Linked DNA regions of Homo sapiens. The protein of the gene in region 1 purifies or fractionates together with the protein of each later gene. This does not show direct contact. Each region holds a gene or a part of one and is shown on either strand. Other genes may lie near its edges. The genes, in order: LYPLA1, MTHFD2, TXNDC12, MSRB2, SUMF2, MSRA and ACADSB.

Region 1 (3,500 bases):
ATTCCTGATCCCCACCATATGTTCACCCATGGATTTAGCACCCATTAATGATTATTGCCAGAATCTATTGTTGTGGTAGTTGCCGAATATCTTATGATATTTAAATATTTAAAGTTAAAATATGGTCTTTTAATTAAATTTCCTTTGTTCTGGCCGGGTGCAGTGGCTCATGCCTGTAATTCCAGCACTTTGGGAGGCTGAGGCAGGAGGATCATCTGAGGTCAGTAGTTCAGTACCAGCCTGGCCAACATGACGAAACCTCGTCTCTACTAAAAATTAAAAAACTAGCTGGACAGGATGGTGCATGCCTGTTGTCCCATCTACTTGGGAGCTGGAGGTTGCAGTGAGCCAAGATGGTGCCACTGTACTCCAGCCTAGGCGACAGTGAGACTCAGTCTCAAAAAAAAAAAAAATTCCTTTATTCTGGATTTATTATTTAGCAGTCTACTGTGGGGTAGAGCTTTCCTTTCTCCTTTATTTATTACTTATGTAGATACTCATTTGTTTCAAAATTTTAAATCAGTACAGACTCTTGGATTCCTATTGTATTCAGAGGATAACAATCAAGTTAGTTATTTATTTTGATGCTCAAATTGTCCTTTAGTTGGCCACAGTAACCCTTTCAAGCTGGTACTTGGTGTCTTTTGGACATATCCTCATTCTTATTTGATCACTTCCTCACTTTATGGTACAAGACTTTTTCTAGGATTGTCTTATATGTTTCCTGCTCTAGTCCTGGACTCAGCCATTTTTCCAAGAACCCTGGTTCCTTTTAGTAGACAGTGAGATCTGGATGCTATATGTGCTCCCAGATCTAGACCCTTGCAGTGGACAGAGCTAAGAATATATGGACATACATACATATGTACACACATATCAGTTTTAGTATTTATAAGTATTCAAAATCTTGAGTTTATAATGATTCCTCCAATTGCAGCCCAGCACCACAGGGTTTATTATAGCCTTCTCCCTTTCCATATTTGTAATTCCGTGAGGAACCTGACTTCTGTTCTTGGGGGGTTCTGGCCAACAGTGCAACTGTGGAGTGTGCCCCTCCAGTTGCACCAGCTCACAGCTATGCTTCATTCATGGGACCTCTCCCCATCTGCTGAATATCACACCTGAAAGCTCAGTTCCAATTAAGGGGAAACGAGGAGGAGGAAAGGCCTGGTGGAAAGCTTGGTTCTCTTCATGTGTCCCCCTCCCTGCTACTCCCCAGCCCCGATGTATTCCAGGAATTACTTATCTGTATTACCAGTCCCTGTGACATTTCCTAGACCAAGGAGATTATAAAAGTATAGAGAAGAATGTTTGAAAGATAAAATAAGTGGTTGACTGGATCAGATTTTACTGAGAGGTCAAACAAGGTGAGGATTTAAAATAAATTGGCAACATGGATATGTTTTGTGACCGTAATAAGTTTGCAAGTCTTCCTGTAATCAAGAACTATTAATAATAGAATTATAGAATGTGATTTGGAGATCATTTAATTACAAGGAATAGAAAACTCTTCAACTAGCTTAAACAAAAATTAGAATTTGTGGAAGGATAGAAGGGCAGCCCACTGGCATATAAAGTCCATGAAGGCAAAGGTTTCTTTAATAAACTTTCATTAAGATAAAATTCACATACCATAAAATATACCTCAGCACAGGGATTTTTTGTGTTTTGTTTAAATTAATACTGTATTCCCAGTGCTAGAATAGTATAGGACATGTAATAGCACTAAGTATTTGTTGGACAAATAAATGAATAAATAAAGAATTAAAGGGTGAGACATACGAGGAGCATCAATCACCACATGTATTAGTTTCCTAAGGCTGCCATTATAAATAACCACAAACTAGATGGATTAAAAACAACAGAAATTCATTCTCACAGTTAAACAGGCCAAAAGTCCAAAACCAAGCTGTCAACAGGGCCACATACATTCTCTTTAACGGAAGATCCGTCCTTGCCTGTTCCGTTTCTGATAACTCCCGGCTTTCCTTGGCCTCAGGCACCATACCCCCAACCTCTGCCTCTGTCTTCATGTGACCTTTGCTGTGTTTCTGTTCTCTCCTCCTCTTAGGAGGACACCAGTTATTGGATTTAGGGCTCACCCTAATCAAGTGTGATCTCAACTCTTAACTAAGGAAATCTGCAAAGAGCCTATTTTTAAATAAAGTCACATTCCGAGGTTTCAGGTGGATGTGAATTTGGGGGGAACACTGTTCAACTACACCATTATTCTCACTACCTTTCCCTGGTCTTATGGTCTCTCACTTGCTTCTTTCTGTAGATTTGCGTAATTCTCAGTGTGGACACACTCGTGTTATCCACAAGTGAACGATCCTAGCTCTGACTTATATCAACCCTACTTCTGGTGTTCAGTCAAGAATCTGATCTGTCTTAGGTCATTTTTTTTCTTGTCTAGTTAGTTGGTAAGACTGATTGGGACTGATAGGAGAGTTCATAAGAATAACGTGCTACATGAATGGGGTTGGGGATGAGTGGTGTTTCTTTTACAAACCCAGACAGAATCTCTGTTCTACACCCATATTACTACAGGATAATGAACAAATGGAAATAATATGTGTGCGTGCCACCACACAGGTCCTGATTTTGTTTTGTTTTGTTTTGTTTTTAAGTAGAGACAGGGACTCATTATGTTGCCTAGGCTGGTCTCAAACTCCTGAGCTCAAGCAGTCTGTCCACCTTGGCTTCCCAAAGTGCTGGCATTACAGGTGTGAGCCACTACACCCAGCCAGAATTCTTAAATCTTGAGTTTTTCATTGTCACTGAAAATTATCAAAAGAGTTGGCTACAGCTTGGCCATCCTTTTTATATTAATATGGTTGGAGTCAGAGTTTTATAACCTGTATAGACCTTCGAATCATCCAGTACAACTAGCTCCTGGTTATGGATGGGAAAACTGAGAACTAGAAAGGCATGATTCTCATACTATAGCATGCATCAAAATCACTTGAAAGACTTGATTCTTGGGCCCCACTGCCAGTTTCTGATTGAGTGGGTCTGGAATGAGACCAAGGAATTTGTCTGCATGCCTCCTCTTCTTCTTTCTTCTTTCTTCCTCCTCTTCCTTCTCCTTCTCCTCCTCTTCCTCCTTCTCTCTCTGTCTCCTCCTTCTCCTCCTCCTCCACCTTCTCTTCCCCCTCCTTCTCTTCCTTCTTTCTCCTTCTCCTCCTTCTCCTTCTCTTCCTTCTTTCTCCTTCTCCTCCTCCTCCTCCTTCTCTTCCGTCTTTCTCCTCCTCCTCCTCCCCCTGACTTCGACAGGGTTCTCCTCCGCCGCCGCCTCTGCCTCTTCCATCTCCTCTGCCGCCGCTGCCTCCCCCTCCCCCTCTTCCTTCTCCTTTTCCTCCTCCTCCTCCTTGCTTCGACAGGGTCTCTCACTCTGTTGCCCAGGCTGGAGTGCAGTGGCGTGAACACAGCTCACTGCAGCCTTGACCTCCTGGGTTCAGCCTCCCAAGTGACTGGAAGTACAGCTGCATGCCACCATG
Region 2 (3,500 bases), on another chromosome or scaffold:
GCCCGGCCTATATTGTTTGTTTATTCAACTACAGAATATAATTTATCGATTTAAACCACCATAAAAATGAAGTCAGTTGACTGGGAAATGATTTGAAATACATGCCTGGCTGCTAACAACAGGGACAAAACACGAACTACAAATGGCATATAAGCAGATAAGAAAAACTATTTAACCTCATGGTGAGGGGTCAAACAATTGCAAATTAAAACTGTAAAACACTTAGTAATGATCAGGGCGCAGGGTGGTGTAGCAGTTAAGAGCCCAGACTGATGTGAGACTCAGCTTGACCAAGCGCTGTCAGTCACTTAAACTCCCTGAGCTTCAAATTAATGATAATAATGATTTCTATCAACTTTATCCCCCTCCATATGTAGCTGGATATATTCATTCATTTATTTATTTATTTAGCAGAGACAGGGTTTTGCCATGTTGCCCAGGCCAGTCTCAAACTCCTGGGCTCAAGCCATCCTCCTGCCCCGGCCTCCCGAAGTGCTGGGATTACAGGCATAAGCCACTACACCTGGCAGAGTTTTAGTTTTTATAAAAATTCAAGTTATTTGGTTTTGTGACTCTGTTGCCTTCTGCAGAAATGAAGCTGTTGTCATTTCTGGAAGGAAACTGGCCCAGCAGATCAAGCAGGAAGTGCGGCAGGAGGTAGAAGAGTGGGTGGCCTCAGGCAACAAACGGCCACACCTGAGTGTGATCCTGGTTGGCGAGAATCCTGCAAGTCACTCCTATGTCCTCAACAAAACCAGGGCAGCTGCAGTTGTGGGTATGTGTCCTTCTGAGACCTCGACTGCGGTTCAGTTGAGGTTTATATGAGGCAAAGTCCATTCTAATTTATGATTTCTTTTTTCTGATTAGGAAACCCAAGCAGAGGAGGCTAATGTGATTGAACTGTATCCCAAAACTTTGTCATAGGAAATCAGACTATATCTTTCGGGGTTTATACAGTAGGACAGGAGATACTGGTTGGTATTCTCTGTGGCTTCTGGAAAGAATATAAGCTACATTCTGTTCTTAGTCTTTATATTTGATAGGTGACCCTGAATGCATTTTACATTTGCTTTCCTTGAGCAATAATGGGTCTCCAGTGGAGGTGTTTGAGTGTTTGCAGCTTAAAGCCTTAGAGGCTTAGGGGGCATGATTGAGCAATACAGTATTAGGTGACCTCAGTGATGAGGTCAGGAACACAGTCGTAGATTTGAAGGAAATGACTCTGACTTCTGGGAAATAGCTTTCAAGTTCTTCACCGATTGGTTCTAAAGCCAAACATGCAGTTTAGAAGCAGTTCAGGTCTGGATGATGGGGTTTGTGTTCTAGGTCTCACGGTACCACAGATTACTGTGTCTCTGTGGACAAGAGGTGGGTGGGCAGGCTCAGATATGCCTCTGCCTGCCCATCTGTGGGCCTGTGGTCTGAGCAGCAGGTGGCCTTTCCTTCGAAGGGCTGTGAAACCACTCGCGTGGCTGGGTGGGGTTACTGGCCTGTAAGCCTGTGGTTTTCTCTGTTCTTTATTATTGAGGAGTGAGGCCTCCTGCTCTTTTAATTGAAAGCCTTTAGAAACCTCTAGATAATGGCAAGCCATGGCATTTTGTTTTGTTTTTTGAGACGGCATTTCGCTCTTGTTGCCCAGGCTGGAGTGCAACGGCGTGATCTCGGCTCTCCGCAACCTCCGCCTCCCGGGTTCAAGTAATTCTCCTGCCTCAGCCTACCGAGTAGCTGGGATTATAGGCATGGGCCACCATGCCTGGCGAATTTTGTATTTTTAGTAGAGATGGGGTTTCTCCATGTTGGTCAGGCTGGTGTCGAACTCCCGACCTTAGGTGATCCACCTGCCTCAGGTGATCTGCGCCTGCCTCAGCCTCCCAAAGTGCTGGGATTACAGGCGTGAGCCACTGTGCCTGGCCAAGCCATGGCATTTTAAGACATTGGGAGGTAGTGTGGTGCAGAAAAAAAGAACATGGATTTTGGAACCAGAAAGACTGGCTGTATTATTAGCTCGCTTATTTATTTATTTATTTATTTAGAGACGGAGTCTCGCTCTGTTGCGCAGGCTGGAATGCAGTGGTGCGATCTCAGCTCACTGCAACCCCCGCCTCCCAGGTTCAAGCGATTCTCCTGCCTCAGCCTCCCAAGTAGCTGGGACTACAGGCGCGTTCCACCAAGCCTGGCTAATTTTTTGTATTTTTAGTAGAGACGGGTTTTCACCGTGTTAGCCAGGATGGTCTCCATCTCCTGACCTCGTGATCCGCTGGCCTTGGCCTCCCAAAGTGCTGGGATTACAGGCGTGAGCTACTGTGCCTGGCCTAGCTCGCTTATTTTTAAACCTCTCTGAGCCTCAGTCTGTCTGTAAAATAAGGTTAATGAAGATTGCATAGAATGAGGTATACAGGATGTGTTAAGCTAGTATTCTCTGGTGTATATATTTGTGAAGTTACTTTTTTAGGTTCCTTGAGCTACTTCAGCTTTTAGGGATGAGTGTGATGATACAAAACCCGTATGGTAGCCAAGTATGGTAGGCAACATAGCAGTGCTCATTAAATGCCTCAAAAATTTTTTTAACCTCAAAATTTCTTATAATAGGAATCAACAGTGAGACAATTATGAAACCAGCTTCAATTTCAGAGGAAGAATTGTTGAATTTAATCAATAAACTGAATAATGATGATAATGTAGATGGCCTCCTTGTTCAGTTGCCTCTTCCAGGTGAGTTTTGGACTCCATTTAACATGATTGCTGCTGCTTCTGCTCCTTTCCCTCTCCCTCCCTCTCTCTCTCCCTCCCCATCCCCCTCCTCCTCCCTCTCCTTTCCTTGTCTCACTCTGTCACCCAGGCTAGAGTGCAATGGTACAATCATAGCTCATTGCATGCTCAAGCTCCTGGGTTCAAGGGATCCTCCTGCCTTAGCCTCCCAAATAGCTAGGACTATAGGCATGTCCACCATGCCCAGCTAATTTTTACATTTTTCCTAGAAATGAAAGTCTGTCTGTGTTGCCTGGGCTGGTCTTGGACTCTGTGCTTCCCAAAGTGCTGGGATTACAGGCATGAACTACCATGCCCTACCTAAAATGGTTTCTGAGGGGTAAAAAGGCCTTGTTACTTTATACACCTGGTTCTTCATGTGGATTTGGCTTAAAGGCAAAATAAACTCAAAAGAGTGAATATTTTATTAGAAATGGGACAGACCAACTCAGAATACCAATTACGCCTTGATTTAGTATTGTGGTCTTGATACAAAGGACAGTGGAGGGAAGCAGCTGTGATAGACGATATTGGCTTTGCTATTGGTGTTTGGCTTTGCTTATGCGAGTTCCTTCCATGCAGATGAAGTACATCTCAGAGGCAAGCTGTAGAAGAATAGATTTCCTTGCGAAGCAGATAAGCTGGAGTCAGGCAGTGCTGACTATGCGGTGGTGATTTAAGGCAACTGTGCCAATTTCTTTTTCAGAGCATATTGATGAGAGAAGGATCTGCAATGCTGTTTCTCCAGACAA
Region 3 (3,500 bases), on another chromosome or scaffold:
TTCTTAGTGGGTATCTTGTGAACATGCACACTTCCTTCTTGGGACTGTGCCCTTTGTTCATTATGTGAATGCTTATAAAGTTCTTTCCTTCCAGGTTTTGGAGATCATATTCATTGGAGGACACTGGAAGATGGGAAGAAAGAAGCAGCTGCCAGGTACAAGACATGGTTTTAGGTCATTTATGGTGGTAAAACACTTTTCAGCTATCAACTTAACGTTAATTTCAGGTGAAGGGCTATACCAAGGCAGAGCAAGAACTGAATAGTTGCCTAATTACAACAACAGCAATAATAATGGCTAACATTTATAGTTGAGCCTTGAACAACATGGGTTTTTTTTCTTTTTTTTTTTTTCTTTTTGAGATGGAGTCTCACTCTCTCGCCCAGGCTGGAGTGCAGTGGCACGATCTCGGCTCACTGCAAGCTCCACCTCCTGGGCTCACGCCATTCTCCTGCCTCAGCCTCCCGAGTAGCTGGGACTACAGGCACCCGCCACCACGCCTGGCTAATTTTTTTGTATTTTTAGTAGAGACGGGGTTTCACCGTGTTAGCCAGGATGGTCTCAATCTCCTGATCTCATGATCCACCCGCCTCGGCCTCCCAAAGTGCTGGGATTACAGGCGTGAGCCACCGCGCCCGGCCTTTTTTTTTCTTTTTTGAGACAGAGTCTTGCTTTGTCACCCAGGCGGGAGTGCAGTGGTGCGATCTTCATTCATTGCAACCTCCACCTCCCAGGTTCAAGCAATTCTTGTCAAGCCTCAGCCTCCCACGTAGCTGAGATTACAGGCATGTGCCACCATTGCCGGCTAATTTTTGTAGTTTTTAGTAGAGACGGGGTTTCACCATGTTGGCCAGGCTGGTCTTGAGCTCCCAACCTCAGGCGATCCACCTGCCTCGGCCTCCCAAAGTGCTGGGATTACAGATGTGAGCCACCACGCCCGGCCAAACAACATGGGTTTGAACTGCACAGGTCCACTTATATGTGGATTTTTTTCAGTAATAAATGCATTGGAAACTGTTTTGGAGATTTCAAGCAGTTTCAAAAAACTTGCAGATGAACAGCATAGCCTAGAAATATCAAAAAACTTAAAAAATTGGTATGTTACAAGTGTAAAAATATATGTAGGTATTAGTCTATATTATCATTTACTACCATAAAACATACAGAAATCTACAAGTTAAAATTTATCAAAACTTCTGCACACTGGCTGGGTGCGGTGGCTCATGCCTGTAATCCCAGCACTTTGGTAGGTTGAGGCGGGCAGATCACTTGAGCCCAGGAGGTTGAGACCAATCTGGGCAACATGGTGAAACCCCTTCTCTACAAAAAATACCAGTTACTTGAGGGGGCTGAGGTGGGAGGATCAATTGAGCCTGGGAGTTTGAGGCTGCAGTGAGCTAAGACCATGCCACTGTACTGCAGCCTGGAAACAGAGTGAGACCCTGTCTAAAAAGCTTCTGGCCAGGCATGGTGGCTCACGCTTGTAATCTCAGCACTTTGGGAGGCTGAGGCGGGCAGATTACCTGAGGTCGGGAGTTCAAGACCACCCTGGCCAACATGGTAAAACCCCGTCTCTACTAAAAATACAAAAATTACCTGGGCATGGTGGTGTGCACCTGTAGTCTCAGCTACTAGGGGAGGCTGAAGCAAGAGAATCACTTGAACCCGGGAGGTGGAGGTTGCAGTGCGCTGAGATTGCACCACTGTACTCCAGCCTGGGAGACAAAGCGAGACTCTGTCTTAAAAAACAAAAATAAAAAATAAAAATAAAAATAAAAAAATAAAAAACTTCTGCACACAAACACCTATAGACCACACATGCTGCCATTTGCAGAAGGGAGAAATGTAAACAAATGTAAAGATGCCATATTAAATCATAACTGCATAAAAATTAACTGTAGTATATAACATTACTAATAATTTTGTGGCCACCTCCTGTTGCTATGGAGGTGAACTCAAGTATTGTGAGTATCCACTTAAAATGCCGTGCAACATTAATCATCTTCAGTGAGCAGTACGTCTCTCCAGTGTATTGCGTATCGCAGTATAACGTAGTTTCTCAGCTGGGCGCGGTGGCTCACACCTGTAATCCCAGCACTTTAGGAGGCCGAGGTGGGTGGATCACTTGAGGTCAGGAGTTCGAGACCAGCCTAGCCAACATGGTGAAACCCTGTCTCTACTAAAAATACAAAAAACTTAGCTGGGCATGGTGGGCGCATGCCTGTAATCCCAGCTACTTGGGAGGCTGAGGCAGGAGAATCGCTTGAACCTGGGAGACGGAGTTGCAGTAAGCCAAGATCACGCCATTGCACTCCAGCCTGGGAGACAGAGCGAGACTTGGTCTCAAAAAAAAAAAAATTAATCTCTTACAACTCTTGCATATTTTTCCTGGTATTTAGTACAATATCATAAACCTAGAATAACACCATGAAACCCATACAAGGTGCCATTGGTGATGCTGGAAGTGTTCCCAAGAAGCAGAGAATGCTCATGACATTACAAGAAAAAATTGAATTGCTTGATATGTACTGTAGACTGAGGTCTACACAGGTAGTTGCTTGTCGTTTCAAGATAAATGAACCCTTTTTTTTTTTTTTTTTTTTGAGACGGTGTCTTGCTCTGGCCTGGCCAGATGAATCCATTTTGAGAGTCTGAGGCAGGAGGACTGATTGAGCCCAGTAGATTGAGACCAGCCTGGGCAACAAAGTAAGACCCTGTCTCTACAAAAAAAAATTTTTTTAAAGATAAATCCAGCGTAAGGACCAATTGCGTAAAAAAAAAAAAAAAACAGAAAAAGAAAAAAAAAAGAAAATTCATGAAGTTGTCACTGTAGCTATGCCAACAGGTGCAAAAACCTTGCACTTTTTGCCAAATGCCTTTTTATGTGCATAATATGTAGCTTTTACATGGGTACTATAAAAAGGCATACCTATTGACTCTAATATGATTTGAGAAAAAGCAAAGTCATTATATGGCAACTTAAAGCAAAAAGAAGGTGAAGGATCTAAAGCTGGAGTATTTAATGACAACAAATGATGGTTTGCTGATTTTAGAAAGAGGTTTGGCTTAAAAAATGTCAAGACAGGCTGGGCGCAGTGTTGCCCGTAATCCCAGCACTTTGGCAGTCCAAGGCGGGTGGATCATTTGAGGTCAAGAGTTTATGACCAGCCTGGCCAACATGGTGAAACCCCGTCTCTACAAAAAATACAAAAACTAGCTAGGTGGTAGTGGTCCATGCCTATAATCCCAGCTACTTGGGAGGCTGAGGCAGGAGAATCGCTTGAGCCTGGGAGGCGGAGGTTGCATGAGCCGAGATCCCCCCACTGCACTCCAGCCTGGGTGACAGAGTGAGACCCTGTCTCAAAAAAAAAAAAAACAAGATACAGGAGAAGCAGCTTATGCTGACCAAGAGGCAGCAGATGAATTCTCAGACACCGTTAAGAAAATCATTGAAGAGAAAGGATATCTGCCTGAACAGGTGTTTAATGCAGATTAAGGTA
Region 4 (3,500 bases), on another chromosome or scaffold:
TTCCATAGATTTCTGGTATTAATAATAAAAAAATATTAAAAAATAGCTACCAACTCAAGTGCCATGTGTCAGGTACTATGCTAAGCACACACACAGAAAGTGAGGTGATAATGCCATTGCTATTGTTAGCTTAAAACAATCATACAATCTATAAATTTAGAAAAGGAGACTTTATTTCTTCTAAAGGGTTACAGCCTTCAAGGTGGCCATCCTACAGGCTGGGAAGCGAGCTCCCAGCCAAGAGCAGATGCAGGCACTTGGAAGGGGGAGCAGCTGGGGTAGGAGCTTTATGCTGAGAGGGTTGGCTAAATATACCTATTTAACAGATCACAGAAGGGGCTATGAAAATTTGTGAAGATGGTCCTGACATACACATATTGAACAAACATGCATGTAACATATGACCTATGTTTATTTGGGGGTAGAAACTTAACATTTAAATGTATTATAATTAGATCCTATACATCAAAAGGTCTTTCAGGATATGAAGGCCCACAAGTGCACAGCCTCTGTAAACCATCCAGAACCACTTCATGGTCTTTTAATCAGGAGAAAGTTACTAAAATCAGTCTCTTGTGCAATCAAAGCTGTAGTTACGGCTGGTGGAACAGAGGGTCTCAGCTAGTCAGTGTCTGATGGTAGATGAGCTGCAATTGCTTCAACACTGCTTATCTCAAGGCCAGTGATTGTTTAGCTGCTAGAGAAGAAGAAAACCCCTGTGGCAGTTAGAGTTGATTCTTTAAGTGTAGGGGTGCATGACTTCACCCTCGCCTGGCATGGCCTTAGGTCCTGTTTATAATTTGGTATATTATTGCCACAAAGAGGCTGTTCTGCCAGTCTTATGATCTCTATTTAAACATTAATGCTGGTCATTTGTTGTGTCTAAACCACAAAAGGGAGAGGGTATAATGAGGTGTGTCTGACCTCCTGTCCCATCATGACCGGAAACTCGATTTAAAGGTTTTTCTGGAGTCCTCTTGGCCAAGAAGGGCTCTATTCAGTCAGTGGGTGGCTTAGAACTTTATTTTTAGTTTATACTTATCTATAGACTAGGATGCTGAGGCTTCAAAAAATTAAATGACTTGCCAAGGTGATACAGATGTAACAGACAGATCCCAGATTCACACACAAATCTTTCAGAAGTCAAAGCCCTTCCTCTAATGGCTATACCTGTGGTTCTTAAAGCCTGGTCTGAGGACCCCAGAGATTCCTGGGGGGGACCTTTCTAGGGGCTTTTCCAACCACACTTGAGACCACTTGAGGCCACATCCTCTTATACTCCAATCAAAACAACATAGCAACAGACTGAATTCAGAGGCACATATGAAGATTCAGTTGTCTTTTTTTTAAGCCGGATGTTAAAGAGCCTTGCAAAATTGTAAAACAGTGCAACTCTTCTCATGAAATGTTTGTTTCATTTTGAAAAGTATAATTATTTGCCTTAAATATATGTTATGTTAACATATAATAAATTTATTTCAGGTTGAGCATCTCTACTCTGAAAATTCGAAATCTGAAATGCACCCAAATCTGAAACTTTTTTATTTTTTGAGACAGAGTCTCGCTCTGTTGACTGATCTCCACTCACTGCAACCACTGCTTCCTGGGGTCAAGTTATTCTCCTGCCTCAGCCTCCCAAGTAGCTAGGACTACAGGCATGCACCACCATGCCCAGCTAGTTTTTCTATTTTTAGTAGAGAGGGGGTTTCACCATGTTGGCCAGGCTGGTCTCGAACTCCTGAGCTCAAGTGATCCACCCGCTTCCACCTCCTAAAAAGCTGGGATTATAGGCGTGGGCCACCACGCCAGCAAAATTCGAAACTTTTTGAGAACCAACATGCTAGTCAAAGGAAATGCTCACTGGAGTATTGCAGATTAAGGATGCTTAGCCATCAAGTAAAATGCAAAATTCAAAAAGATCTGAAATCCGAAACACTTCTGGTCCTAAGCATTTCAGATAAGGGGCACTCAACCTATATTAAAAAAAAATTAATGCACACATATTTTTAAATTCTCATTTATAATGTATAATTTGTTAAATGTTGACATACGTAACTCACAGACAAAAGCTCTCAGCAATCCCTATTAATTTTGGGGACACAGAGGGGACATGAGGGGTGCCGAGACCAAAATGTTTGAGAATTGCTGCATTACACAATTGTTTCTGTGGGAGTTTGTGCTGCCAGCTAGGCTTCCTTCTGTGTTCATAGTCTAGGGATTTGATTCTTTGCTACTTTTTCTTCTTAGATTAGTTTTTTGTTTTTTTTTTTTTTTTTTTGGCTGGGTCTAACATTCAGTTCTTCTCTTTCTTCCTTAGATAGAGAGAGCCATTTCCTTGCCACAGCAATTTTTGAAGTCTATTTTCCCAGTGCCATTTAAGGGAGCTTATCCATGAGAGCACTTAGAGGGTGGGTCTTTGGTGAGTGGATTTGCCTGCTGTCCTTCTCCTTGTGCCAGCATCATGAGTCCCTGGGAGACTTCTGGAGGGTTAGGTTTCACTGCAGTGATTGATGCCAGGTACCCAGGCGTATTAATTAATACTAATCATCACCATCACAGCAAGCATTCAGGGAACTTACCATGTGCCCAGCACCGTGCTAAGCTTTATGTCACACTTCAGTTTCCCCTCAAATCCTCAAAACAGCCCTGTAGGGTAGATATTATTCCCATTTGCTAGGTGAGCAAACTGAGGCTTCAAGAGCTGTGGTTTCACACAGCTAAGAAGTGGCCAGAGGCAGCTTTTGAATCCCTGGTCAGGCGTCTGTGTTGAGATAACCTGAAATTCCTGTTGCCAAGCATGACTTTCTCATCAGACCTTACACTTCTGCGCTGCTCTAAGATGATGATGACTTCCTCCGAGCATTAGTATTTCGTTTTGATTTCTCCCCTTTTGACATTTTCAACACATGGGTTTGATCTGTGTTACCTAATATGCAACACAGTTCACAAAACACCATGTGTTTTTAGATCCTTGTTGGATATCCAGAAAGAAGTCTTTAGCATCAAAGGATCAAGAAGTCCTTCCACTTCGAGAGGCAATGGCTTCGATAGTGAAGGTGCAGTGAGGACGATTCCGGGGGGACTGACTGTCGAATAACTGGGCATGGGATCTGGCAGAGGAGAGTGGGAACAGATCCTGCTGCCTGGAACAACACATCGGGGCACCTCTTGGCATGTTAATGACAGTGTCATTAGCAGCTGTAGTATCGTTTATGTCTTCCACAGTTCTGAGAAAAAGTACTGCTCTGGCACTGGGTGGCCTTCGTTTTCCGAGGCTCATGGTACGTCTGGCTCTGATGAAAGCCACACAGGGATCCTGAGACGTCTGGATACCTCGTTAGGATCAGCTCGCACAGAGGTTGTCTGCAAGCAGGTGAGGTTTCTCATTTTGTTTTACTTTCCCTGATGCTGCCCCCAATGCCACAAAGAGCTCTCTTGTTCTTGGCAAATCTGGTGTCCTTTTATAGGGGTACTTTCTTTTGTCTTCAGAACACATGGGG
Region 5 (3,442 bases), on another chromosome or scaffold:
TCTCTACCCCTCGTACATCCAGGAACACTGAGTTTCAAAGAAGGATAGGGGAATATCAGGGAAAGCGCTCAGCAGGCCTGTTTCACCTGCCCGAATCCTGTTTCCTGTTACCCATCCATTTCTCCCTTCAGCCTCCTGTAGTCTCTTTTTTCTGACTCCGACCACTGGTCACTCACCCGGCTCTCTTCCAGCTCTCTTGCTCCATCTAGTGGTAAAAGCTGAACGCGGGCGCCCTAAACCTAGCCTGCCTCCGACTTAATGCGCTCCCGGAAGCCTGTCTCACTTAATCCTGGCTGTCAGCCTGCAGGTCCTGGCTCTGGCATCCGAGAGAGACTGGAGCACCCAGTGTTACACGTGAGCTGGAATGACGCCCGTGCCTACTGTGCTTGGCGGGGAAAACGACTGCCCACGGAGGAAGAGTGGGAGTTTGCCGCCCGAGGGGGCTTGAAGGGTATCCAGATGATAAGGCGATTTTCCTTTATTCTTCTCCCCATCCTGCCCAGCATGAGGGGCTTTAAAGGGTGGAAAGGGGCTGGGCGCAGTGGCTTATGCCTGTAATCCCAACACTTTGGGAGGCTGGGGCAGGAGGATCGCTTGAGGCCAGGAGTAAAAGACTAGCCTGGGCAATATAGGGAGACCCTGTCTCTCCGAAAAATACAAAAATGAGCTGGGCCTGGTGGCATGTGCCTGTAGTCCCAGCTACTCAGGAGGCTGAGGTGGGAAGATCCTTTGAGCCTAGGAGTTCAAAGCTGCGGCGAGCTATGATCGCACCACTGCTGTCTGGCCTGAGTGACAGAACAAGACCCTGTCTCAAAAGAAAAAGCGGGGGGATGGGGCAGGAAGGGTCTGTGTTCCCTAGAGCAGTGCTTCTTAAGCTATCTGTGGTGGAGGACCAGTGTTTTTTTTTTTTTTTAATTTCTAGTCCATCTCAGACTGATATAAAATACCATAAAAATTAATAACTGGAAAATTGAAAGAACAGACATAAAATATTTTATTGGAAATTCCACAGACATGTTACATTTCAATAAATATAACTAGAGCAACATAGCATAAGGAAAAAGAATTACCAAGACTACACACTTCTGCCTCTGGGGTACAGAGATTAATGTTAAGAGTCACTGTTTGCGGCCGGGCGCAGTGGCTCACGCCTGTAATCAAAGCACTTTGGGAGGCCGAGGTGGGTGGATCACGAGGTCAGGAGGTTGAGACCATCCTGGCTAACACAGTGAAACCCCGTCTCTACTAAAAATACAAAAAAAAATTAGCTGGGCTTGGTGGCGGGCGCCTGTAGTCCCAGCTACTTGGGAGGCTGAGGCAGGGGAATGGCGTGAACCTGGCAGGTGGAGGTTGCAGTGAGCCGAGATCACGCCACTGCACTCCAGCCTGGGCGACAGAGTAAGACTCCGTCTCAAAAAAAAAAAAAAAGAATCACTGTTTGCTCCTAACTCGGTCATTTGTCATTCTGCAATCCTAATTACACAAAAAGTTAGGACAGCAAAAAGCAACTCCGCACATTAAACCCCTCTACACAATCTTTCAGTGAACACCAGGTACATCAGTGATCAAAGTTTTTTGTTTTTTGTTTTTTGTTTTGAGACAGTCTAGCTCTGTCGCCCAAGGCTGGAGTACAGTGGCACGATCTCAGCTCCCTGCAACCTCCGCCTCCCGGGTTCAAGGGATTCTCCTGCCTCAGCCTCCCTAGTACCTGGGATTACAGGCACCTGCCACCATGCCCGGCTATTTTTTTTTTTTTTTTGAGACAGAGTGTCGCTGTGTCGCCCAGGCTGGAGTATGGTGGCGCGATCGCGGCTCACTGCAAGCTCCGCCTCCCGGGTTCACGCCATTCTCCTGCCTCAGCCTCCCAAGTAGCTGGGACTACAGGCGCCCGCCACCTCGCCCGGCTAATTTTTTGTATTTTTAGTAGAGACGGGGTTTCACCGTGTTAGCCAGGATGATCTCGATCTCCTGACCTCCTGATCCGTCTGCCTTGGCCTCCCAAAGTGCTGGGATTACAGGCGTGAGCCACCATGCCCTGCATAATTTTTGTATTTTTAGTAGAGACAGGATTTCACTGTGTTGGCCAGGCTGGTCTCGAACTCCTGACCTCGTGATCCATCTGCCTCGGTCTCCCAAAGTGCTGGGATTACAAGTGTGAGCCACCGCGACCAGCCAGTGATCGAAGTTTTTAATATGACCTGTGAGGTTGCCTCTGGCTCATTCATTTATGCAATCTAAGTCCAATTTCAAGTTTCTCGATTTCTGTACTTTTCTCAACATGAACTGATAACAGATGCTTTATAAACTGGCTCAGGTCCCAGAACCATGCTTAGGATTACATTGCCCTGGAGCACATGAGGAGGCCAGGGCCCTCTAATGCAGTTCAGCGAGTGGAGAGGATGGGCATGGCAAATAAAAGCAGGTCATTCACTCTTTTTTCTCATCACCCTCTAACTTCCTTTTGATTCCCTCACTCTTTCTGTGTTCTTTTTTCCTTCCCTAATTCTTCACCTCCCCCTCCTCTGCTGCCTCCTTGCTCTCCTCGCAGGTCAAGTTTACCCATGGGGGAACTGGTTCCAGCCAAACCGCACCAACCTGTGGCAGGTAAGACCTACGTTCCTCCTTTCACCAAGCATTGACAGAGACCTGCTGGAGGCTGGGCACTGTGTTGTTAGGCCGCGGCATCCAGAAGGCTTGGGTTCTAATGCAACTGATGACTCATAAGCTGGTAAAGCAAAAGACAATGGGTCATAAGTGCTTTCTTTTTTTTTTTTTTTTTGAGACAGAGTCTCTCTCTGTTGCCCACGCTGGAGTGCAGTGGTGCGATCTTGGCTCACTGCAACCTCCGCCTCCCAGGTTCAAGCGATTCTCCTGCCCCAGTCTCCCAAGTAGTTGGGATTACAGGTGCCTGCCACCATGCCCAGCTAATTTTTTTGTATTTTTAGTAGAGATGGGGTTTTGCCATGTTGGCCAGGCTGGTCTCAAACTCCTGACCTCAGGTGATCCACCCGCCTTGGCCTCCTAAAGTGCTGGGATTACAGGCATGAGCCACCGTGCCCAGCCAGCGTAAGTACTTTCTATTAAAGAGTTGTAGGGCTGGGTGCAGTGGCTCACGCCTGTAATCCCAGCACTTTGGGAGGCCGAGGCGGGTGGATCACCTGAGGTCAGGAGTTCAAGACCAGCCTGGCCAATATGGTGAAACCCTGCTTCTACAAAAAATAAAAGATGAGCTGGGCATGGTGGCATGCACCTGTAATCCCAGCTGCTTGGGGCTTGGGCAGGAGAATCACTTGAACCCAGGAGGCGGAGGTTGCAGTGAGCTACCACTGTACTCTAGCCTTGGCGACAGAACGAGACCCTGCCTCAAAAAAAAAAAAGTGAATAAAAAATAAAACTAAAATAAGCAAATAAAAAAGCACTGTCCTGAGAAGGCCAGCAGGAA
Region 6 (4,148 bases), about 44 Mb from region 1:
AGCTCACTGCAGCCTCTACCTCTCTGGCTCCAGCGTTCCTCCTGGTGCAGCCTCCCAAGTAGTTGGGACCACAGGTGTGCGCTACCACACCACCATGCCCAACTACTTAAATACCTTTTTTTTTTTTTTTTTTGGTAAAGATGGCGTCTCAAACTCCTGGCCTCCAGCAATCCTCCTGCCTCAGCCTCTCAAAGTGTTGGGATTACAGGAGTGAGCCATCATGCCAAGTAAGTTATTTCTTCACACTAAACATTCTTCAGCTCTTAGTTGCAGAGTATTTCTAGCATGTGAAACTTCATACAATCAACCACAAAACACAGACAAATCAGTATGTATCAAAAAGAAGTAACTGAAAAACACAAAATATTGTCTTTGACAGAATGACTATTTTTTCAGACCCTTAATAGTGACCAGGCCTTCGCAAGCCTAGAAGGGACTCCTGGGGGTGTTTTCATGAAAGGCCTGTGGAACCGACTTGGTATAGCCTCATAGCAATAACAAACAGTTTAGGTATCATTTTGTCCAGGGGAAATACAAATTACAAAATCAAAGCTAGAGCCTTTTTAGTGTTGTATGCCTGGCAACACACCTCATTCTACACTATAGCACTGCTAAGCCTCCTGCCCTCCTTACAGTCCAGACCACATGAAAACAAAGTGGTAACTAAATCCATGCAAGAAGCTGGGTGAAAGCCTCCTTTCTGTGGGTGCTAATCTGAAGTTCCCTCCCTCATCTGAGACGACCTGCCCATTTTGGCAGAACATGTGTTAAGCCAAAATCTCACACAGATGAACTCCCAAGTCACTCACCTCGCTCCAACCACTTTACATTTAGTTTGAGAATGTCACAGGAACAAATGTCATCTCCTATGATTTGAGAAACAAGAATAATACAACACCACCATTAAGTCCACCTACACTGCCTTAATGGTGCTGTTGGTGCCTTGCTCCCGTATTTTGGCCGCTGCAAAATGGGCTTAAATATGTTTGTAAATACATAACTTAATATTGAATTCATCTTCCCTATTCCGCGCATTTTGAGAACTGTGCTTAGTTTTCACTTTGGACGAATAGCAACCCTTCTGATGGCCGTCATGACAATGTCTCCAATAAAAACTGACAGTCTAGCTGGCTGCAAGGCAGGTCCTCTTCTATCTTACTGGGCACTGCTAAACTGCGAAGTCGGGGCGACACGGCAGCAACTTTAAAATCAAACCGCATCCCCAAGGGCTCGGCGTGTTTTTTGGCCTCTGCAGCTTCACGTACTTCGTACGACAGGAGCGCACTTGTTCTCTGTCCGAGAACTTCGTCCCGAGAGAACCTCAGGAACTCGCCGGGCCACACCCCCTGTCCAGGGAAGGAACACGCCCCCGGTGACAGCCGGTACGGCCCCGGGTTTGGGCAACCTCGATTACGGGCGGCCTCCAGCCCCGCCAGCAGCGCCCCGCGCCCGCCCGCCCGCGCCCCTGCCGCCCCCCGGTTCCGGCCGCGGACCCCACTCTCTGCCGTTCCGGCTGCGGCTCCGCTGCCGGTAGCGCCGTCCCCCGGGACCACCCTTCGGCTGGCGCCCTCCCATGCTCTCGGCCACCCGGAGGGCTTGCCAGCTCCTCCTCCTCCACAGCCTCTTTCCCGTCCCGAGGATGGGCAACTCGGCCTCGAACATCGTCAGCCCCCAGGAGGCCTTGCCGGGCCGGAAGGAACAGACCCCTGTAGCGGGTAAGCACTGGCCACACGGAAGGCGCGGGCGGCGACGCTGCGCATGCGCGCCTTTGCCCGGCGGCAGCGCGCCCGCTGCCCGGAAGGAAGCCGTGGGCTGGCCTCGGGCGGGTCGCGGGGTGGGGGTCTGCGCAGGCGCGAAGGGGCGCCGGCAGTGGCCGGGGAGACGCTGGGGTCCACTGACGTCCCTTTGTCTTTGTTTGGCTCGTCATCTTCTGGAGCCAAACTGGGCATTCTGAAGGAATCTAGTGCATCGGTCTCACTTACCCGGAGTGCATACCGTCGCGGCCCCAAGTTTTGGGCAGGAAATGTGCCGCTGGGGTCTGGCCTTGCTCGCGGGCGCCCGCGGCGCTGTGCCTGCGCCCTCCTTTCTTGTCTCCTCTGCGCCGGCCGCCGGGACCCAGGGCACCTGCAGCGGGGCTGGTGCGAGTGTTGTCCCGGGAAATGCCGGAATGAGACGAGACGATGAAAACCTTAAGTGTGGAACTGCGTCTCAGGCCAGTGTTCTGGCTGAGTCACCCCTAGTCACCCCTCGTGCCCTAGGTCGGCCCCGCTGTCCCCAGGGGCAGGGGCTGCCGTATGCTGGGTCAGCTTAAAGCGATGCTCCACAAACTTGGACAACTTTCTAGTCGTTCTCACATCAGTACTTTGGGAAAATACAATAAGGGTGAAATACTAGAAAAATGTTCACGTGCTTCGATGCCATGTAATGGTAAACTGCTATAAAAGTTTTCAAAATCTTGGCAATTTCTGCTGCAGACAGCACGCGTTTCCCAGAACGAGGGCCACACGTTAATATTACCTTAGTGCAGCGCTTCTCAGAGTGCCCCCACCTGCCGCAGCAGCAGCAGCATCACCACCTGGGTGGGCGTTCCCCCATTACTGAATCGGAGACTCTGGGGGTGGAGCCCAACAATCTCTAAAACAAGTCCTCCAGGTGATTGTAATGTACGCTGTAGCTTGTAAACCACTGCCTTAGAGCTGTTGGAGGATTAAGTGATGTTTAATCTACACATGGCTCAATGCCAGAGAAATTCAGCATTTAAAAAATTTCCTTAGAAGTTTCTTTTTCTTTTCCTTCAAGAATTGTTGAGGATAGGAGGAGGTCATATTGAGAGTTTGTCATCTCGTAGAATAATCAGTATGAGATTAGAAAAGGTAGAGGTTTTTTGGATTAGAGGCAGTTTAGAAATCGTGTGACTGGCTTATTATTAATCGAATTAGCAGTTTCTGTTTCCTGGTTTCCCCATCATTTCACCTGCTACTCAGCCGTAAAAGTTTATTTTTGATTCAAATGCAGAGATTGAGTTTTGAAACAAATCTAGATTAGTAAACATCTATACTTATATATAGATTTATAAAATATAACCAGATTATCTAAAACTTATAAATGCATCTTAAAATTTTTTCTTTCTTTTACAGGCAGGAATTTATACGTGCATGTTTAAAGGCGATACTTTTCAAATGCCAGACTTCCTCAGCTTGTGCTATACTTCCCGTTCACACACTGCCGTGTCTTTGCTATGCCCTCCCATACACCAAAAAAAAAAAAAAAAAAAAAAACCCCAAATAATCCAAAAACTCTTGTTCAGATTTCCAAACTGGTTCAAGGTCAAGATGGACCAAAATTTACTTTGGCTTTATCTTAACCAAAGTCTTCCCAATCAGTTTCCTAATATGTAAATGACATTTTTGGTAAAAGATGAGCAAACATTTCAGAAATGAGCCAACAATTTTTTTCTTATCCCCATCATAACTTTTAACTGCAAAACCTCAGGACCTGGTTCTTTTCCAGGCTCTGCTGTCTCCATATAGCTGTGAGTGTTTTTGGTACACCAACACATCTCTGTATCTGGGCCAGTAAACTTTTTTTTTTTTTTTTTGGTGTAGGGCCAAGCCTACAATGCATATGTCCTTATTGTTCATCTATTGTAACTTTTTCCACAAAAAGTGTGTGAAATTTAGATTGTGGACGTTCCAGTCTCCACTTCTGAGCCTTGAGAGGTTGCTGAAAGCCCTGACTGGCTCCAGAAATGGGCAGTGTTACCTCTTCAGTGGGTTTCAGTAGCTGTAAACTTGAAACTTAAGGATTTAGTATTGTTCTGAATGTGGAATTCACCTCCACTGCAACTTGGATCCTGTTTAACAACTCCTCCCTTCTCTATATTACCTCCATCCATGTCTGTTCTTATTTGTACCCTGACCCTCAAAAGTTGCGTGACAAAAGCATCACCTTTTGACTGCAGAAGGCCTGTTTCTTTAGTGCGTTTAGATAAGCCTAGTATCAGGTGTGTACCATTACCAAATACTTGAGGTGTTAAGGATTACCATCTTAGCGTTCATCCTACCATTTTTATATTCTTAAGGACAATTCCACCCTTTTACACACTGTGACCAAGATTTCCACCTTGCAAGAAGGAAAGAGTCAAACCT
Region 7 (3,500 bases), on another chromosome or scaffold:
GAGCTATGACAACCCAAAATGTCTCCATCCATGGCCAAATGTCCCGTGGGGGCAAAATTACTGGACTGAGAACCACGGATGTAGACCTGTGTAACAGTGTACTCCATGAAGGAGGGGAAAGGTGGCCTTTCTCCTTATAACCTGGTAGGGAACTTTCTCTCTAAAACTATTTGCCATACTCAGTTTGTTGGCTATAGAAATTGATCTACAGTTTCAAAGATTTTTGTTGAAAGATTTCAATAGCAGCCATTGAGATTTTAAGGTGCTGTTTGCAAAGGAGTTTACAAGATAAAACAGTCAGCAGCTCACAAAAGGAACTCATCACGTGAGACTCTGAAGCCACATCCCACTTAGACCATTTCACAAGTCCACTTTTAGAGTAACAAGGCCCTCAATGAGGGTGATAGCACCGATGATCAGAAAGGAAGACATGTTAATAAAAGAAGACTTGAGAAGATGTGGGAATTATCTTGAAATGGAGGAATTAGATGGACTACACATTTTCTAAATGAAATAGCTTAGTGATAGGCAAAGATTGGGACATCTGGAGAAAAAGTAATTTAGGGTGACAGAAGAAAGGTAATTCTGTTTTAGACACGTTTTAGGTATTAATAAAACTTACAACTGAAAGTGTCTTAGAAGCTGGTCAGAAATGGGTCTAGAAAGTGGACCAGTGCTAAAGCTATGGTAAAAGGAAAACTTCATCTGAATTAAATTTAAAGGAGTTTAATTGAGCAGCAAATTGGGCAGCCCCCAGAACCACAGCAGATTTGGAGAGACTCCAGGGATGCCTTGTGGTCATAACAAATTTATAGACAAATGAAGGGAAGTGACAAATCGGAAGTGAGGTACACAGTGGCTGGATTGGTTACAGATTTGCAATTGTCTTATTTGAACACAGTTAGAACACTCAGCAGTCCATGAGTGGTTGAAGGATGGCTGCTGGGATTGCCCAAGACGCAGCTACTGTTACAGGCGCATACTCCTAAGTTAGGCTTTCAATCTTGTCTACCTATTAAGCTAGGTTACAGTTCATCCACAAGGACTCAAATATAGACATACGGAGTCCTTCTCAGGCAATATTTAGTTTGCTTTAAGAGCTATAAATGCTAGCCAAAACCATAAATGGGTATGGGGCATCGGAAGGATAGTGAAGAAACAGGAGTGGACAAGTCAGCCTTTGGGGTACAGTTCAGACCATCCTGGGTAAATGTTGAGAAGCAAAGAAGCAAAAGGAGACTTAGTAGGATATCAGAGGAAATTCTGTGACATATGTGTTTTATTCAGAATTGGAGCAAAAGAAGGAAAAGGATATTTAAAAGCAAACATACAGAATTTGTGTCACATAAAAAAAACAAACCTGTGAGAGCAGAAGCGGTGTGTTTTGAGAAGTGCAAGACATGGCAGGGCCAGCTAATGGAGCTGGTGGAATGCATACTGAGGAGGTTGTGAACGTGGTTCATGCTCCCTTCACTCAATTTGGTAACCCCCTGTCCCCAGCCAGTGTTGAATATGCAACCCCTGATATGGAACTCTGGTCTTTTGGCATCTATTTAAGTGTTTCTTCTGACTATCTTCCCTGAAAAAGAGGGTGAGTTGAAGAAATTCCCAATGCCTGTTAAGTTGTTGGACCCAAGTAATTATGTGATTAAAAAAAAATTTAAACTCCATAATAGTCCTATCTTTTAAAATTTCTTTGAAAATAGAAGTGAGTGTCTTGTTTCATTTTTGTCCACTGGTAATTTGGGAAAGAGAAATTGTTGACTTGGCTAAGGTCACAATAAAGGCAAGCCCAACTCCTTTACCTTATATTTATTTATTTATTTTTTTGAGACAGAGTTTCATTCTTGTTGCCTAGGCTGGAGTGCAATGCGTGATCTCAGCTCACTGCAACCTCCTCTTCCCGGGTTCAAGTGATTCTCCTGCCTCAGCCTCCCAAGCAGCTGGGATTATAGGCACCTACCACCATGCCCGGCTAATTTTTGTATTTTTAGTAGAGACAGGATTTTACCATCTTGGTCAGGCTGGTCTGGAACTCCTGACCTCACGTGATCCATCCACCTAGGCCTCCCTAAGTGCTGGGATTACAGGTGTGAGCCACCTCACCGGGTGGACACAGTTTCTAATGGCCGGCATTTGCATGTCTAAGCTTGCTGTCCCAGCTTGAAGAGCCGGGCTTTCCTGCTAGACAAGAAACGTTCCTGGAGCTGCTTTAAAAGAAACAAAAACTTCCCAAGGACACCTTTTCCTCTCTATAGGCCTAAAATAATTTTTTAATAACTCCCATAATGAAAGTCGGGGGTGGCTTCCAGGCTATAGGTAAATTTAAACATTTTCTGGTTGACAATTGGTTGAGTTGGGCTAAAAACCTGGGGTGAATAGAAAGGAATGTCTGGGTTGTGATAAGAAGTTGTAGAGACCAAAGTTTAATCATGCAGATGAAGCCTCCAGGTAGCCGACTTCAGAGAGAATGGATTGAAATGCTTCTTATTAGGCCTAAAGTTCTGTGTTGATGTTCATGCTGGTGAGGTATAATGAGGTATGTTCGACCCCCACTTCCCATCATGGCCTGAAACAGTCTCTCAGGTGAAATTTTAAGACCCCTGGCTAGGGAGGAAGTCTGTTCAGCTGGTTTGGGGGGCCTTAGAATCTTATTTTTGGTTTACACATGATTAAAAAATACTTTAGCTCCATAATAATCCTATCTTTTAAAATTTCTTTGAAAATAGAAGTGAGTGTCTGGTTTCATTTTTGTCCACTGGTAATTTGGGAAAGAGAAATTGTTGACTTGGCCAAGGTCACACTACAGGCAAACCCATTTCCTTTGTGTTGATTCCCTTGCCTTGTGTCTTGTCTTGGCTTATTTAACCCTCTTTTGAGGGAATCACTATAATTCTTAAAAGGGCAAGGCATTGTTAGGAACTCCTAAAGACTAGAATGAAGAATCAGAGACTGGTAGATGGGAAAGGTTGCGTTTTTAGCAGTTTTGGAGAATACCTAGAACAGAAGCTATTATTTATGGAGAAAGCAAGCAGAGGTTGGACAGATTCTGGTATAGAAGTTTTGGCTTGGGGATATAAAATTGGGATCAACTTAAAATCTAATCCATTGGTACACTGCTAATAAAGGCATACCCAAGACTGGGTAATTTATAAAGAAAAAGAGATTTAATGGATTCGCAGTTCCACGTGGCTGACGAGGCCCCACAATTGTGGTGAGGAAGGTGAGGGAGGAGCAAAGGCACGTCTTACATAGCAGCAGGCAAGAGAGAAGTGCAGGGGAACTGCCCTTTATAAAACGATCAGATCTTGTGAGACTTATTCACTATCACGAGAACAACACAGGAACAACCCGCCCCCATGATTCAGTTACCTCCCACTGGGTCCCTCCCATGACACATGGGGATTATGGGAGCTACAATTCAAGATGAGATTTGGGTGGGGACACAGCCAAACCATATCAAGCAGGTATGAACAATTTGGCTTAGGAAATCAAAATCA

What was found.
Region 2: the proteins of LYPLA1 (region 1) and MTHFD2 fractionate together in Homo sapiens (co-fractionation; one large-scale study listed by BioGRID). This does not show direct contact.
Region 3: the proteins of LYPLA1 (region 1) and TXNDC12 fractionate together in Homo sapiens (co-fractionation; one large-scale study listed by BioGRID). This does not show direct contact.
Region 4: the proteins of LYPLA1 (region 1) and MSRB2 fractionate together in Homo sapiens (co-fractionation; one large-scale study listed by BioGRID). This does not show direct contact.
Region 5: the proteins of LYPLA1 (region 1) and SUMF2 fractionate together in Homo sapiens (co-fractionation; one large-scale study listed by BioGRID). This does not show direct contact.
Region 6: the proteins of LYPLA1 (region 1) and MSRA fractionate together in Homo sapiens (co-fractionation; one large-scale study listed by BioGRID). This does not show direct contact.
Region 7: the proteins of LYPLA1 (region 1) and ACADSB fractionate together in Homo sapiens (co-fractionation; one large-scale study listed by BioGRID). This does not show direct contact.

What each region holds. Positions count from the first base shown.
Region 1 is NC_000008.11:54,091,948-54,095,447, reverse strand, and holds part of LYPLA1 (acyl-protein thioesterase 1), read left to right. Parts: intron 1-3,500. UniProt on the Homo sapiens protein: Acts as an acyl-protein thioesterase. Hydrolyzes fatty acids from S-acylated cysteine residues in proteins such as trimeric G alpha proteins or HRAS.
Region 2 is NC_000002.12:74,205,115-74,208,614, forward strand, and holds part of MTHFD2 (bifunctional methylenetetrahydrofolate dehydrogenase/cyclohydrolase, mitochondrial isoform A precursor), read left to right. Parts: intron 1-590; coding exon 591-775; intron 776-2,589; coding exon 2,590-2,712; intron 2,713-3,454; coding exon 3,455-3,500. UniProt on the Homo sapiens protein: Although its dehydrogenase activity is NAD-specific, it can also utilize NADP at a reduced efficiency.
Region 3 is NC_000001.11:52,038,192-52,041,691, reverse strand, and holds part of TXNDC12 (thioredoxin domain-containing protein 12 precursor), read left to right. Parts: intron 1-94; coding exon 95-155; intron 156-3,500. UniProt on the Homo sapiens protein: Protein-disulfide reductase of the endoplasmic reticulum that promotes disulfide bond formation in client proteins through its thiol-disulfide oxidase activity.
Region 4 is NC_000010.11:23,116,079-23,119,578, forward strand, and holds part of MSRB2 (methionine-R-sulfoxide reductase B2, mitochondrial precursor), read left to right. Parts: intron 1-2,967; coding exon of another isoform or gene 2,968-3,097; exon of another isoform or gene 3,098-3,225; coding exon 3,226-3,373; intron 3,374-3,500. UniProt on the Homo sapiens protein: Methionine-sulfoxide reductase that specifically reduces methionine (R)-sulfoxide back to methionine.
Region 5 is NC_000007.14:56,074,286-56,077,727, forward strand, and holds part of SUMF2 (inactive C-alpha-formylglycine-generating enzyme 2 isoform b precursor), read left to right. Parts: intron 1-300; coding exon 301-451; intron 452-2,548; coding exon 2,549-2,604; intron 2,605-3,442. UniProt on the Homo sapiens protein: Lacks formylglycine generating activity and is unable to convert newly synthesized inactive sulfatases to their active form. Inhibits the activation of sulfatases by SUMF1.
Region 6 is NC_000008.11:10,052,944-10,057,091, forward strand, and holds the start of MSRA (mitochondrial peptide methionine sulfoxide reductase isoform a precursor), read left to right. Parts: upstream 1-1,348; 5' UTR 1,349-1,573; coding exon 1,574-1,715; intron 1,716-4,148. UniProt on the Homo sapiens protein: Has an important function as a repair enzyme for proteins that have been inactivated by oxidation. Catalyzes the reversible oxidation-reduction of methionine sulfoxide in proteins to methionine.
Region 7 is NC_000010.11:123,015,506-123,019,005, forward strand, and holds part of ACADSB (short/branched chain specific acyl-CoA dehydrogenase, mitochondrial isoform 1 precursor), read left to right. Parts: intron 1-3,500. UniProt on the Homo sapiens protein: Short and branched chain specific acyl-CoA dehydrogenase that catalyzes the removal of one hydrogen from C-2 and C-3 of the fatty acyl-CoA thioester, resulting in the formation of trans-2-enoyl-CoA.